Linked DNA regions of Homo sapiens: region 2 is linked to region 1. Evidence: fine-mapped expression QTL. Tissue or cell type: whole blood. Region 1 holds a variant in brackets; the other region holds the start of a gene. All regions are shown on one strand. Distances are from middle to middle.

Region 1 (7,859 bases):
TTTTTTTAAACTTGGAAGAATCTTACAGGAAATATTATTTATAGTGAAGAAACATTTATCTGAAGTTCCACAGTTCTTTCAATTAAACTTCTATTTCTGTTCCTTTTGTTAAATTCAAATAAAGTTAAATGTAATTTTAAAAATAGGATATCTAGTATTAATTGATTGTCATAAAATCTTTTTCTATTTATCTGATCAGGTGTCTAGAATGATGCTCACTAAATGTTAACAGTCATAGTTATTTCTGGGTGGTAAAATAGGGTGGTTTGTTGGTTTCTTCTTTGTTCATTTATGATCTGCTTCAAGTTTTCTAATGAACAGGTATTTTAACAATAATGATAACGTTATTAATCTTTTTCTTAAGTACTATTTTTTTTTCTTTTTTGAGACAGAGTCTTGCTCTGTCGCCCAGGCTGGAGTGCAGTGGCGCAATCTCAGCTCACTGCAACCTCCACCTCCCGGGTTCAAGATGGGGTTTCATCATGTTGGCCAGGCTGGTCTCAAACTCCTACCTTGTGATCTGCCCACCTCAGCCTCCCAAAGTGCTGGGATTACAGGTGTGAGCCACCGTTCCCGGCCTTTTTTTTTTTTTTTAAATACAGGATCTCACTCTGTCACCCAGGCTGGAGTGCAGTGGGGTGATCACAGCTCACTGAAACCTTGACCTCCCAGGCTCAAGTAATCCTCCCATCTCAGCCTCCCGAGTAGCTAGGACTACAGGTGCACACCACCTTGCCTGGCTAATTTTTGTATTTTTTTGTAGAGACAGGAGTCTTGCTATGCTGCCCAGGCTGGTCTTGAACTCCTGACCTCAAGCGATCCCCTCACCTTAGCCTCCCAAAGTGCTAAGACTACAGGTGTGAGACACTGCGCCCAGCACCCTTGCCTCTGTTCTGAATGGGCCCCACTGTGTGGTTTTCTGGACAACACTGGGTCATGCTTGAGCAAAGGTACCAGATCTCTTGGGAGCACATGTGTAGCCGGGGCATGGGGCTGGGCTCCAGGCACAGGCTCATGGGACATTGAGTCTTTGCCATTGGTTGGCGGCATTATATGTTACTGGGGCAACCCTTGACAAGCCCAGGAGAGGCCTCATAGGAGGGGTCAGGGCACTTGGTGGGTGTGCCCTGTGAGTTAGAACCTGTGAGTGGGAATTATTATCCCAGTTTCCAGATAAGGGAGCAAACTGAGGCTCAGAGAGGTTAAGGAACTTGTCCAAGCTAGTGATAAACAAAGGCAGGAGCTGGGCGCAGTGGCTCATGCCTGTAATCCCAGCACTTTGGGAGGCTAAGGCGGGCAGATTGCTTGAGGCCAGGAGTTCAAGACCAGCTTGACCAACATGGCAAAATCCCGTCTCTACTAAAAATACAAAAAATTAGCCGGGCCTGGTGGCACACACCTGTAATCCCAGCTACTTGGGAAGCTGAGGCTCGAGAATTGCTTGAACCTGGGAGGCAGAGGTTGCAGTGAGCCAAGATCACTGCACTCCAGCCTGGGTGACAGAGTGAGACTGTCTCAAAACAAACAAACAAAAAAGATGAACAAAGGCAGGACTTGAACCGAAGCCCACTGCCTCCTAAATTGCTGGGATTCCCAAGAATTCAGCTTCTGGTGTAACCAAAACAGAAGATGAGCTGGCCTGCAGGGTGGGGCACGATGGGGGTAGAGGGGGCAGAGCTGCTGACCTCTGACCTCTACCGAGACAGATGCCTTGGACAACAGAGCTGGGCCTGGGATGCGGCTAATTCCTCCAGATGTGAAGAGCACCTTGAGGGGGCTGGGCGTGGTGGCTCACGCCTGTAATCCCAGTACTTTGGGAGGCCAAGGCAGGAGGATCACTTGAGGTCAGGAGTTTGTGACCAGCCTGGCCAACATGGTGAAACCCCGTCTCTACTAAAAATATAAGAATTAGCCAGGTGTGGTGGCATGTGCCTGTAATCCCAGCTACTTGGGAGGCTGAGGCAGGAGAATCACTTGAACCCAGGAGGTGGAGGTTGCAGTGAGCCGAGATCACACCACTGCACTCTAGCCTGGGTGACAGAGCAAGATTCCATCTCAAAAAAAAAAAAAAAAAAAAAAAAAGACAGGCCCATGGCTCACGCCTGTAATCCCAGCAATTTGGGAGGTCGAGGAGGGTGGATCACGAGGTCAGGAGATCGAGACCATCCTGGCTAACACAATGAAACCCCGTCTCTACTAAAAATACAACAAATTAGCCGGGCGTGGTGGCAGGCACCTGTAGTACCAGCTACTCGGGAGGCTGAGGCAGGAGAATGGTGTGAACCCAGGAGGTGGAGGTTGCAGTGAGCCTAGACCATGCCACTGCACTCCAGCATGGGCAACAGAGCGAGACTCCGTCTCAAAAAACAAAAACAAAAACAAAAGCCACCTGGGGTGGGGGTCAGAGAGAGAGAAAGGGAAGCCCCAGAGAGAGGCGGGTGGTGGTGGGCTCTGGTGGGGTTAGCCTGCCCTCCCAGGTGAGGCCTGCCCCATGTAGGCCGTCCACCTGTGAATAGTACCAGATCGAGTATCTGCCTCACTCTCCCCCTCCTGTACCTCCTCTTCCCCCTGCTCTACTACCATGGCACGGCCCATGCCTCGGTGCACCCACTTAATGGGCCTCCTATAATCCCCTGATATCACCACCTGCCTGGCACAGGCCCTGCCGGCCAGCCCTAGCAGCCCCCAGCCTTGGAGAGCCTGTTTAGGACCCCTCACCTCAGAATCCATCTTTTCCTTCAACCTCCTCCTTCCTTCAGCTCACAGTTCAGATCTGGAACCCCACAGCCAGCCCCAAGCTGGGGACAGGAGTCCAGCATCTGCCCTGACTCTGCTGTGTGACTCCAGGTAAGTAGCCGCCCCTTTCTGGGCCTCAGGCTCCTTATCTAAGTATTCCGAACACCCAGCTCATCACACCAACCTGTCTGGGCTTCTTCTCAGCACCATGTCACTTTAGGAAACCTTGCTGTGTGTTAATTCACATGTTTCGTGCTGGTCTCCCCGACCAGACTGTGTACCCGTGAGGCAGGGACCTTACCTGCCTCATTATTCACCCTGGTGCTGGCACACAGTAGGTGCTGTGTTAATAGCTACTGGGGTCAGGTGCAGTGGCTCACACCTGTAATCCCAACATTTTGAAAGGCCAAGGTGGGAGGATCACTTGAGCCTGGGAGGTGGAGTCTACAGTGAGCTATGATGGTGCCATTGCAGTCCAGCCTAGGGAACAGAGCAAGACCCTGTCTCTCTCTCTTTTTTTTTTTTGTTTTTTTTGAGATGGAGTCTTGCTTTGTCACCCAGGCTGGAGTGCAGTGGCACGATCTCAGCTCACTCCAACCTCCGCCTCCCAGGTTCAAGTGATTCTCCTGCCTCAGCCTCCCTAGTAACTGGGATTACAGGCCTGTGCCACCACACCTGTCTAATATTTTTATATCTTTAGTAGAGACAGGGTTTCACCATGTTGGCCAAGCTGGTCTCAAACTCCTGACCTCAAGTGATCCACCCACTTCAGCCTCCCAAATTTCTGAGATTACAGGTATGAGCCACCACGCCCAGCCGACCCTGTCTCTTTTTTTTTTTTTTTTTTTTTTTTTTTGAGACGGATTCTTGCTCTGTGGCCCAGGCTGGAGTGCGGTGGCGTGATCTCAGCTCACTGCAAGCTCCACCTCCTGGGTTCACACCATTCTCCTGCCTCAGCCTCCTGAGTAGCTGGGACTACAGGTGCCCGCCACCACACCCAGCTAATTTTTTGTATTTTTAGTAGAGACGGGGTTTCACTGTTTTTTAGTCAGGATGGTCTCGATCTCCTGACCTCGTGATCCGCCCGCCTCAGCCTCCCAAAGTGCTGGGATTACAGGCGTGAGACACTGCGCCCAGCCTTTTTTTTTTTCTTTTTTATTGAGACGGAGTTTCGCTCTTGTTGCCCAGGCTCGAGTGCAATGGTGTGATCTCGACTCACTGCAACCTCTGCCTCCCAGGTTCAAGCAATTCTCCTGCCTCAGCCTCCCAAGTAGCTGGGATTACAGGCATGCGCCATCATGCCCGGCTAATTTTGTATTTTTAGTAGAGACGGGGTTTCTCCATGTTGGTCGGGCTGGTCTCAAACTCCCGACCTTAGGTGATCCGCCCGCCTCGGCCTCCCAAAGTGCTGGGATTACAGGCGTGAGCCACTGTGTCCGGCCGGGCCGACCCTGTCTCTTAAAAAAAAAACACCTGTTGGCCGGGCACAGTGGCTCACGTCTGTAATGCCAGCACTTTGGGAGGCTGAGGCGGGCGGATCACAAGGTCAGGAGTTCGAGACCAGCCTGACCAACATGGCGAAACCCTGTCTGTACTAAAAATATAAAAGTTAGCTGGGCGTTGTGGCACTTGCCTGTAATCCCAGCTACTCGGGAGGCTGAGGCAGAAGAATCACTTGAACCTGGGAG[G/A]TGAGGCAGAGGTTGCAGTGAGCCGAGATCGTGCCACTGCACTTCAGCCTGGGCGACGGAGTGAGACTCCGTCGCAAAAATAAAAAATAAAAATAAAAATAAAACACCTCTTGAGTGACTGTGTGGGCCCCTCTGCCTCCAGGTTACCACCTGACCAGGGAAGCTAGGGTGGAGCAGTATTCCAGCCCACTAGGGTGGGAGTCTGACCGATCACTGCCTGACTCAGGGGGTGGCAGGGATGAGAACTTAACATTGGTTCCATGATGGAGAGTTTGGGGGAGTACTGGAGAAAGACCAGAACCCAGCATCTGCCTCTCCGACCCTGCCCCTCTGCTGCAAGGCTTCCCCGAGGGACAGTGTCTTAGGTGTGTGTGTGTAAGTCCAAGTGTGTTGTGCCTGGGCAGAGGGAGGAGATCTCCTAGTGTATCAGAGGCTAAGACGTGGCCAGATCCCATGACCCCTGGTCCCCACCTCTGCGTGCATCTATGGGCATGAGGTGTGTGTCCCACGTCTGCTCTGTGTAGGTGCCTCTGGCTGGGCCCCCAGGGATGCACTATGGGTTCCCCTGTGTGCACGCGTGTGTCTGGGACTGTGTGTGTGATGTGTGTAGGCCTGGCATGATCCCACATATATGTACCCATGTCTACTAAAGTGTCAGCTCCACGAGGGCACGGATTTTTGTCTGTCTTGTTCCATACTCTGTCCCCAGCACTTAAAACAGGGACTGGTGCACAGTCAGGGCCCATAAGTCCTGAATGAATGAGCGCATGAAAGTGTGTGCTCATGCCTGTGTGTGCCCACGTGCCAATGCCTGTGTAGACGTGTGACTGTTCCTGTGCCTAAGGGTGAACCTGGGTGTGGACGATGATGTTGCTCACACACCATCCCTCCTGTCCTTTTTCCAAACTCCTTGGGAGCCCGGGCCCAGCGCCTGGGTCCCTGTGGGGCGGAGCAGGGGGCGGCCTCCTCTGGGAAACTGGATCCCAGGACCTGCAGAACAGCAGGGAGCGGGGCGGCCCCTTTGTCCCTGGATAATCCCCATCACGCCCTCGCCCCCTCCCTCCCAGCCACCAGGGTTTAGGGTCGAGTTTGGGAGCTGGAGGGGCCTGGGGGTCCCATCTGTGTCCCCTTCCCTACCCATTTCCTTCCTCTGGGGCTTCTGCACACGAGGCCTCCCCGTGCGGAACATATGTCCCCCTTCTGGGTCCTCCCACCCGCTCCCTGTCCTGTCTGGTGGCCAGGTCTGTCTCTCATTCTTTGCCAGGGCCCTGCCTGCTCCTGCCCCTCTCCCCAGGATGTGACTCCCTCCCTCCCTCTTGGGCCACCCCAGGGCTCAGCCCCAGGTATAAAGACACCTGAGGGGCAGAAGGACAGGTGTCCTGAAAGACCCAGAGGCTGCAGAGAGGAAGAAGCCGAGGAGAGAGCATGAGCTGTTCACTGGGTGAGTGAGGGGCAGGAGCGCCAGGCCCCAGAGACACAGGACAGGGGGACCCGCAGAGCCCCTCCTCTCTCTGACTCAGGTGTCCAGCTCTCTTTGCACCTGCTGAAAACCTCCAAATCCCCCTACATCAAGGCTTCCTTCATCATTAATTCAACACATATTTATTGAATGCCTATCATGTGCTAGGTACTGTTGGAAGCATCTGGGGAGACAGCAGTGAACAAACAGACAAAAATCCATGGCCTCATGGAAATTTCATTCTGCAGACACATAATATGTGTACTAACAAGAAAATTGTAAAGCTAGTGTGACAGAAAGTGGTGCAGTGATCCAACTGTGGCTTTTTTTGTTGGTTTGTTTGGTTTTTGAAACAGGGTCTTGCTCTGTGGCCCAGGCTGGAGTGCAGTGGCAGAATCTTTGCACATTGCAGCCTTAAACTCCAGGGCTCAGGTGATCCTCCTGCCTCAGCCTCCTGAATAGCTGGGACCACAGGTGTACGACACCAGGTTATGCTAATTCTTTTTTTTTTTTGAGACGGAGTTTTTGCTCTGTTGCCCAGGCTGGTGTGCAGTGGCATGATCTCAGCTCACTGCAACCTCTGCCTCCTGGGTTCAAGTGATTCTCCTGCCTCAGACTCCCGAGTAGCTGGGATTACAGGTGCCCACCACCACGGCTGGCTAATTTTTGTATTGGTAGTAGAGACAGGGTTTCACCATGTTGGCCAGGCTGGTCTCGAACCCCTGACCTCAAGTGATCTACCTGCCTCGGCCTCCCAAAGTGCTGAGATTACAGGCATGAACCACTGCACCTGACATATTTTTTTTTTAACTTTTTCTAGAGATGGGATCTCCTGTGTTGCTCAGGCTGGTCTCGAACTTGGGGCTCAAGCGATCTTCCCAAAATATTGGGATTGCAGGTGTGAACCACTGCAAGCCCGAAGTTTGTGAAATGAAGGAATGAAATGGTCTTCCCTCTCAGGCTTCTCTGAGTTGCTACTGAACTCTGGGAACTCAGGAATGTGGCAAGGGGGATGAAGGAGGCCGCCCTGGGTTTGCCTCTCATCTCTGTTTCTCCTGGGTGGTGACCTTAGGTCATTCTCCTCCTCTCCGAGCCTCACACTGTTGGTAGAAACATAAACTGGACCAGATCTTCTTCTTCTTTTTTTTTTTTTTTTGAGACGAAGTCTCACTCTATTACCCAGGCTGGAGTGCAATGGCGAGAGCTCAGCTCACTGCAACCTCCGCCTCCTGGGTTCAAGCGATTCACCAGCCTCAGCCTCCTGAGTAGCTGGGATTACAGGCACACACTACCATGCCCAGCTAATTTTGCATTTTTAAGTAGAAATGGGGTTTCACCATGTGGGCAAGGCCAGTCTTGAACTCCTGACCTCGTGATCTGCCAGCCTCGGCCTCCCAAAGTGCTGGGATTACAGGCATAAACCACCGTGCCCGGCCTTTTTTTTTTTTTTTTTTTTTTTGAGACAGAGTCTCACTGCGTCACCAAGGCTGGAGTTCAGTGGCTTGATCTTGGCTCACTGCAACCTCCATCTCCCAGGTTCAAGCAATTCTCCTGCCTCAGCCTTCTGAGTAGCTGGGATTACAGGCACCTGCCACCACGCCTGGCTAATTTTTTTGTATTTTTAGTAGAGACAGGGTTTCACCATATTGGCCAGGCTGGTCTCGAACTCCTGACCTTGTGGTCCACCCGCCTTGGCCTCCCAAAGTGCTGGGATTATAGGCATGAGCCACTGCGCCCAGCTTGGACCAGATCTTTGAGAGGACAATTTGGCAGCATCTATTTACATTTAAAATAAGCATGCAGCCAGGTGGAGTGGCTCAAACCTGTAATCCCAGCACTCTGGGAGGCCGAGGCAGGAGGATTGCTTGAGGCCGGGAGTTGGAGACCAGTCTGGGCAACATAGCGAGACCCTGTCTCCACATAAAATTTAAAAAATTAACTGAGTGTGGTGGTGTGGATCTGTAGTCCCAGTTACT
Region 2 (6,429 bases), 38 kb before region 1:
GGTTGTGGATGTTGCTCACAGCTTCAATGTGGGGCAGCAGACACGTGGAGACCATGAGTGCAAAGAGGTGCACAGCCACCAGCACGGTGGTGCAGGCACTGAAGGCCACCAGCAGGCCTGGTGGGTACTCGTGGTCACTCTCCAGCTGCACCTCCACCATGGCCACCTGCAGGGACAAGAGGGGATGTACTGATCTCCCCATAACCTCAACTGTAGAGATTTTTTCCGCCTATCGGGATACATCACTGATACATATCCCTAGGACCTAGAACTGTGCCTGGCAGAAACCAGAGACATTCAGTCTCTGTTGAGTAAACGAATGGACAGCTTTGCAAAGGCTCTGTTCTGTTCTGGTTTCCCCACCTCCCTATCAAGAGGGCTGGATGGCCGGGCGCGGCGGTTCATGCCTATAATCCCAGCACTTTGGGAGGCCAAAGTGTGTGGATCACCTGAGGTCAGGAGTTTGAGACCAACCTGGCCAACATGGCGAAACCCCGTCTCTACTAAAAGTACAAAAATTAGCCGGGCATCGTGGCACATGCCTGTAATCCCTGCTACTTGAGAGGCTGAGGCAGGAGAACTGCTTGAACCCAGGAGGCAGAAGTTTGAGTGAGCCGAGATCATGTGACTGCACTCCAGCCTGGGCAACAGAGCAAGACTCTGTCTCAAAAAAAAATTAAAAATAAAAATAAAAAAAAGGGCTGGATGACATGCTTCTAACAGGTTTACTGCATAGGGATCAAACAGCAGATTCTGGAGCTGGGCTGCCTGGGATCATTCTCTGCTCTAGCTGTGTAATCTTGAGCAAGTCAGTTCTCTGTGTGCCTCAATTTCCTATCTGGAAATAGAGATTGATAACAGCACCTCCCTGCCTTATAGGGTTGGTATAAACATTAAATGAAATATACATGAAATGGGCTGGGAGTGGTGGCTCACGCCTTTCATCCCAACACTTTGGGAGGCCGAGTTGGGCGGATCACCTGAGGTCAGGAGTTCAAGACCAGCCTGGCCAACATGGTGAAACCCTGTCTCTACTAAAAATATAAAAATTAGCCGGGCGTGGTGGTGTGCGCCTGTAATCCCGGCTACTCAGGAGCTTGGGAGGCTAAGGCAGGAGAATTGCTTGAACCCAGGAGGCAGAGGTTGCAGTGAGCCGAGATCGCACCACTGCACTCCAGCCTGGGTGACAGTGTGGGACTCTGTCTCAAAAAAAAAAAAAAAAGAAAGATAAGAAAGAAAAGAAAGAAAGAAAAAGAAAGAGGAAAGGAAAGGAAAAGGAAAAGGAAGAAAAAGAAAAAGAACAGTGCCAGGCACAGAGTAAGCACTAGGTATGTGTTTGCTGTTCTTGCTATAGTGAATGCTAAAGTCTGAGGACAGAGTTTACAAATCGGCACACTGTGGACCACTGCCAGCTTGCAGACGTGTTTTGCTTGGCTCACACAGTGTGTTTCTTAAAAAATGGAAGATGCTGCCAACTTGTAAAACTGAAGAGATTTCTTATATCCCTATTTCCAGATCCCCTTGAAAACTTGGAAGAACTAGCCACACTTGGCCTGCGTTCCTGCATGGCAACTATCAGCTCAAATCAGTCATGGCTGCTCCCCTTGGAAAGGTCATGGGGTCTCTCTTTTTTTTTTTTTGGTAGATGCCAGGTCTTGCTATGTTGCCCAGGCTGGCTGGACTCGAACTCCTGGGCTCCTAGGCTCAAGCGATCCTCCTGCCTTGGCCTCCCAAAGTGCTGGGATGAAAGGTGTGAGCCATCACCCCCAATGTCATGGGGTCTCTTGCTTGCTAGTCCCTACCCAGCCAATTTGGCATCCATATTACCTGCCTGGCCCTTTGCAAACATTTGAGTTGATGACCCTATTCTAGGAATTTATAAATTTGGAGTCTGGAACCAGACGGCTTAGGCTCAAATCCTGCCACTTACTTGCTGTGGGACCTTGGGCAGGTGTCTTAACATCTCTGATCCTCAGTTTCCTCATCTGTAAAATGGCCAGAGTAGCAGTACCCACTTTGTAGGCTAACAGATGATGTATATAAAGGCACTGAGGGCAGTGCCTGGTGCTTAGTGACAGCTGGATACAATTTGTATAATGCTATTCTAACTTAGGCCACCTGAGTTTCAGAAGCCCACTCTCTCCCCATCCCTGGTTCTTGTAGGGTCCATTCGATTGCTCTGGGCCTGGGGAAAGAAGAAGGTAGGTGTAGAGGCTGGCGGGTGGAGGTAGGAAAACAGGGCTGAGTATTTTGGGAAATTGGGCCATGGCAGGTGTCAGGAGGTGTTTTCCACAGACAGGGATCTGGGCCAGGCTTAGTCCTGGTTTCTCCCAGAGCCTGGCCCAGCCTCGGTCACCCCTGCTAGGACTGCGGCCAGTCCTGCCCCCGGAACCTAAACCTCCAGCCCCTTCCTCCTGCAGAGAAGGCTCGGGCCCTTAAGCTGTCACCCCAGCAACCTGCACCTGCATATTCTGCCGTGGAGGGATTGTCTCCTTGGGAACAGGCTGGACCATGGGGTTGACCTCCCTCAGCTTGGGTGGCTGCTCCCTTCCCTCTGCAGGCTGTGCAGATGAAGGGGAGCCAACATCCTGTCCCTAGGTGATGCCCCCATCATGAAAGGTAAGCTGGTCTGTGGATTCTGGGACCCCACATAGAAGACCATAGGCTTATGATGACCCTTAGGGTTAGAGAGTTTCCCTGTCATTGTTCAAATATGGAGGTTGTGGCACAGACAGGGCAGGGACTAGCCCAGATCCCCTAGCGCCATGGTCCCCACCCCAACCGCCTCTGATATCCACCCCCACAGGAGTGCGTTCCCCAAAGTACCTCCTGCAGCTCACTTTCTCCTTTTTCCTGGGGTGATGGTGGGGCAACCCCAGACTAACAGAGCAGCAACCCTGGGTCCCAGTTCATTCGCTCCTGCCCAGAGGCAAGGCTTTTACTTTCCACACCTGTCCAATTAGCAGGCTAGTCTGAGCCATCCTTGGTACGTGACCTGCTCTGACATGCCTGGCTCACCCTGGGGCGGTTACTTGGCTGGCTACAGAGGGCGCACCCTCCATGATCTCAGTTTCCCACTGGCTTGCAAGCGGGGTGGAGGCCTGTCCAGGGTCACACAGCTGGCCACAAGCAGGGAGGAGCCAGGACTGTGTCTGCTGATCCTCACCCTGGGACCTCCCTCCATCCCACTTCCTGTGAGGCCACTGCTGGGGCAGACCGTTAGCCAACACCGTCCTCCTGCACCTGGGGTTTATCAGCTTGAGACTCGCTTATCAGTTTCCTCATCAGCCTCCTTCCCCAGCGGTTCCCTCCCGGGCATGATCTCTTGTCAGTTTTCCTGGTTGACACTAGCACCCCTTGGGCCCGCTGGAGAGTGGCCACCTTCCCTGGGACGGGCCCACCTTCAGCTGGGTGACCCTTCCACCCAGCTAATCCATCTCGAGCCCCCCACCTGTTGATGCAGCCCCCACCCAGCTGACCTGCCTTTGAAGCTGGCACTGGGACTTAGGAACCACTTCTGCCAGGTACAGGCTCCATCTGGACCACTCTGCCTCACTGTTGCAGTCAACCCCACCAGCGATTTGTTCACCCCACTCCCACTACGACACCTTTAGGACTTTCGTGTCCTCCGGTGGCCCCGTCTCCTGGGGTCCCCTGTACACACACATCCGTAAGAAGGGACTTGCTCAGTCCCGCGGGACCTTGTTCCTTCCCCCTTTGACGAAAGCCCCCTTTAACCTGTCTCCCTTGGGACCTGTTTACTTCGCCCCCCCCCCGACCTGTGCCCCCCACTTGCTCTGCCCCACCGGGTGTGACCCCTCCCGGCCCCTCACCATGGCGAAGCCCGAGAGCAAGGCAGACGTGCGGCTGGAAGCTTTGAGCTTGGCCCGGCTGAGGTAGAGGCGGCGCCAGCTGAGCGCCCGCAGCGAGTGCTGACTGGCCCCCATGAGGTCCAGGTAGCCGCGGTGCACGAACTCCCGGTACGTGGCCGAGCCTGCAGGGCTCTCGCCCTCAGGGTTCAGCGGGGCCTGCTCGCCCGCGTCCCCCTCGCCGCCCTTCATCCTGGGGGGGGGGCGGCACCAGGCGGTCACTACGGGGCGGAAGCGCCTCGGGGGCCCCAGCCGGGCCGGCCCAAGCCCGGGGGCGGCCCCATTCCCAGACAGGACGAGCAGGATGCAGGCGGCGGGCGCCCAGGAAGAGGCACCCCCAGTGGAGCAAGAAAAGCAGCGTCTGCGGGGAGCCCCAGGAGCCGGAGCGGGACAGCGGAGGCCAAAACAGGAACTGGGACAGAGGCGGAGCCGGGGCTAGCCACATGATGGGGTGGAGCCGGGGACCAAGTCCCCGCAGTCCCGGGCCCGCAGAGATTCCCCGCGACCCCTACCCACCAAGAACGTTATCCAAGCGCCCGGACCCCACCGAGGTGCACGCCAACCCCAGCCCCCTCCAAGGTACAGCTGGACACCCCAGGTGTCCACACTTCCAAATCCCTCCCAAAATGAGTCCAGGAGAGGTGAGCCCACTCATCTGTAGGTAGGGACCCCGCAGATACACACACGAACTCCGCAGCCCCGGCTGGAAGATTTTGAGTTTTATAGCAAACCGTATTGTACAGACCCGGGGCCCAGGGGCCCAGCCCGGCTGGGTCCCCCGCTTGCCCCTCGCCGGGCTGCCTCTTCCCTCCCCCAAGCGGCCCCATTCTCAAGCCTCTCGCTATCCCCAGGCCCCACCCCTCCGGCCTTTGGTCCGCCCAGCCCTCCCCCCACCCGCGCACCTCCCTGTTACCTGAGGTATGTGGATAGATCTCCCCTCCCCTACATGGTAAGCCCCGGCCCCCCGGAGGCCTGCGCGGAGGGGCGGGACCTGGCCCGGCTCATCCCCGGGGTCCCGAAGCCCCACCCCGCGCTCGAGGAAGGGGCAGGGAAGGAGGGCCAGCAGAGTCTGTTACTAGGTTCCCATGGCAACTAAGAGGGGGCCATTTCCAGCCTTAGCACTGGCATCGGGAGGTGTCCGTTGGCTGCTATTTCCATGGCAACCAGGAGTGGCAGTTCCCTGGGCAAATGGGATACAAGTTTCCATGACGATGAAAGAGTGGGAAGAGCCAGGCTGGAGGAGTCCCATGGTCCCCATTCTTGGGCTGGCGCCCCCAGCCATAATGCGGGTCCGGCGGGTGCCGCCGCTCAATACAGTAAAACAAGAACAAGCCTGGGGGTGGCGCAGTCCCAAATGGGCGCCCACCGGCCCGGTCTCAGGTCTCAGTCCAAGCTGGTCCAGTCCCCTCACACCCCGGCTCCCCCAGGTCCGAGATTCCCCCGGTTCAAGTAACACTTCAGTACAGATGAATGTTCAAGTATTGTGCGGAGAGGCGGGCAGGGGGTTGGGGCGCCCCTCGCCACTCCCCTGGGCCGCGAGCTGAAGAGCGGCTGCCCGCGGCCCCCACTCCTTGCAATAGCTGCCGTTTTCAGTGACGTTCAAGGAGTCAGGGTCAGGGGGAAGGAACTGAAGCCTGGGGAGGGGGGAAGCAGAGAGGTGACCCCCAAGGGGGTATTGCTGTCCCCACACCTGCTCTCATCCCCACCTCCAGCTCAGCCCCAGCTTGCCCCTGGTTCCCCTACCTCTGACACCTGGATCCCCAATTGCTCCTCCGGTTTTCCTTTTGTGGCCCCACCCCCACCCCCCACTCCAAGTAACTGGTCTTTGTTCCCTGAACCCTTGGTGGTCTGCTGTCTGCCCCGCCCCCCGCCCCTTCCACCTCCCCCAGCCCCTGGCTCCCATATCCTGTGTGTGTCCTTTCCCCATTCTCCCCCCCAACACTTGCACCATAACCCCCCTCCCACCGTCCCTTCGGCTCAGCACCCTCCAGTACCTCTGACCCACTCCCCCAGGGGATGGACAATGAAGCAGGTAGCAGGGGCAGGACATAGGAAGGAGAAACCCCCAGAGATATCAGTGCAGGGGGGAAAGAAGGGGGTGGCTGGCTTGAGTCCCTGGGTGGGAATCCCAAGTCACTGACACTCAGGAATCCCAGGGTGGTGAGGTGGGAACCTGGCCTCCCAGCAGGGGTGAAATGAAGCCGGAGGTCCAGGCTCCTGTCGAGTCCGGGGGAGGGTGGGGGGCGCCCAACTAGCTGTCCTTGAGAAGCAGCTTCTCCTCAGGGCAGCGGAAGGGGCCAGGGGGCCCGGCAGCTGCCAGCCGGGCACAAGCTTCGGGTGAGAGCTGGCGGCAGGAGCGCAGGTCTAGGCGGCGTAGACGAGGGCAGCGGCGGAACAGCGGGAGGCAGTGGTCCGTTAGGCGGTGGCAACCTGGGGATGGGGCAGTGGAGCTGAGACCAGGCAGGTGAGCAAGGGGTTGGCACTGGCCGTGGGGATCCACAGGCTGGCAGGACGGATGGGGGACCGTGCTTACCAGCAAGATTGAGGTGCACCAGGGTCT

Evidence for each region. PIP is the estimated chance that this variant, and not a neighbour inherited with it, causes the effect.
Region 2: it holds the start of ORAI3, and the variant in region 1 is fine-mapped to the expression of ORAI3 in whole blood (TOPMed, PIP above 0.99).

What each region holds. Positions count from the first base shown.
Region 1 is chr16:30,908,199-30,916,057 of GRCh38, reverse strand. It overlaps the pseudogene CTF2P. Among named protein-coding and RNA genes, the nearest start is that of FBXL19-AS1, 11 kb to the left of the region's middle. The variant G/A (reference allele first, on the strand shown) is at 4,425.
Region 2 is chr16:30,946,922-30,953,350 of GRCh38, reverse strand. ORAI3 (ORAI calcium release-activated calcium modulator 3) reads right to left here and starts at 4,283. Exons shown (of 2, transcript NM_152288.3): 1 at 3,834-4,283; 2 at 1-166. The coding sequence starts at 4,061. It overlaps FBXL19 (F-box and leucine rich repeat protein 19), which reads right to left. Exons shown (of 11, transcript NM_001382779.1): 10 at 6,403-6,429; 11 at 4,568-6,299. The coding sequence ends at 6,121. RefSeq lists enhancers at 1-350, 2,410-2,927, 2,928-3,157, 3,446-3,964 and silencers at 3,888-3,937, 3,978-4,237, 4,608-4,857.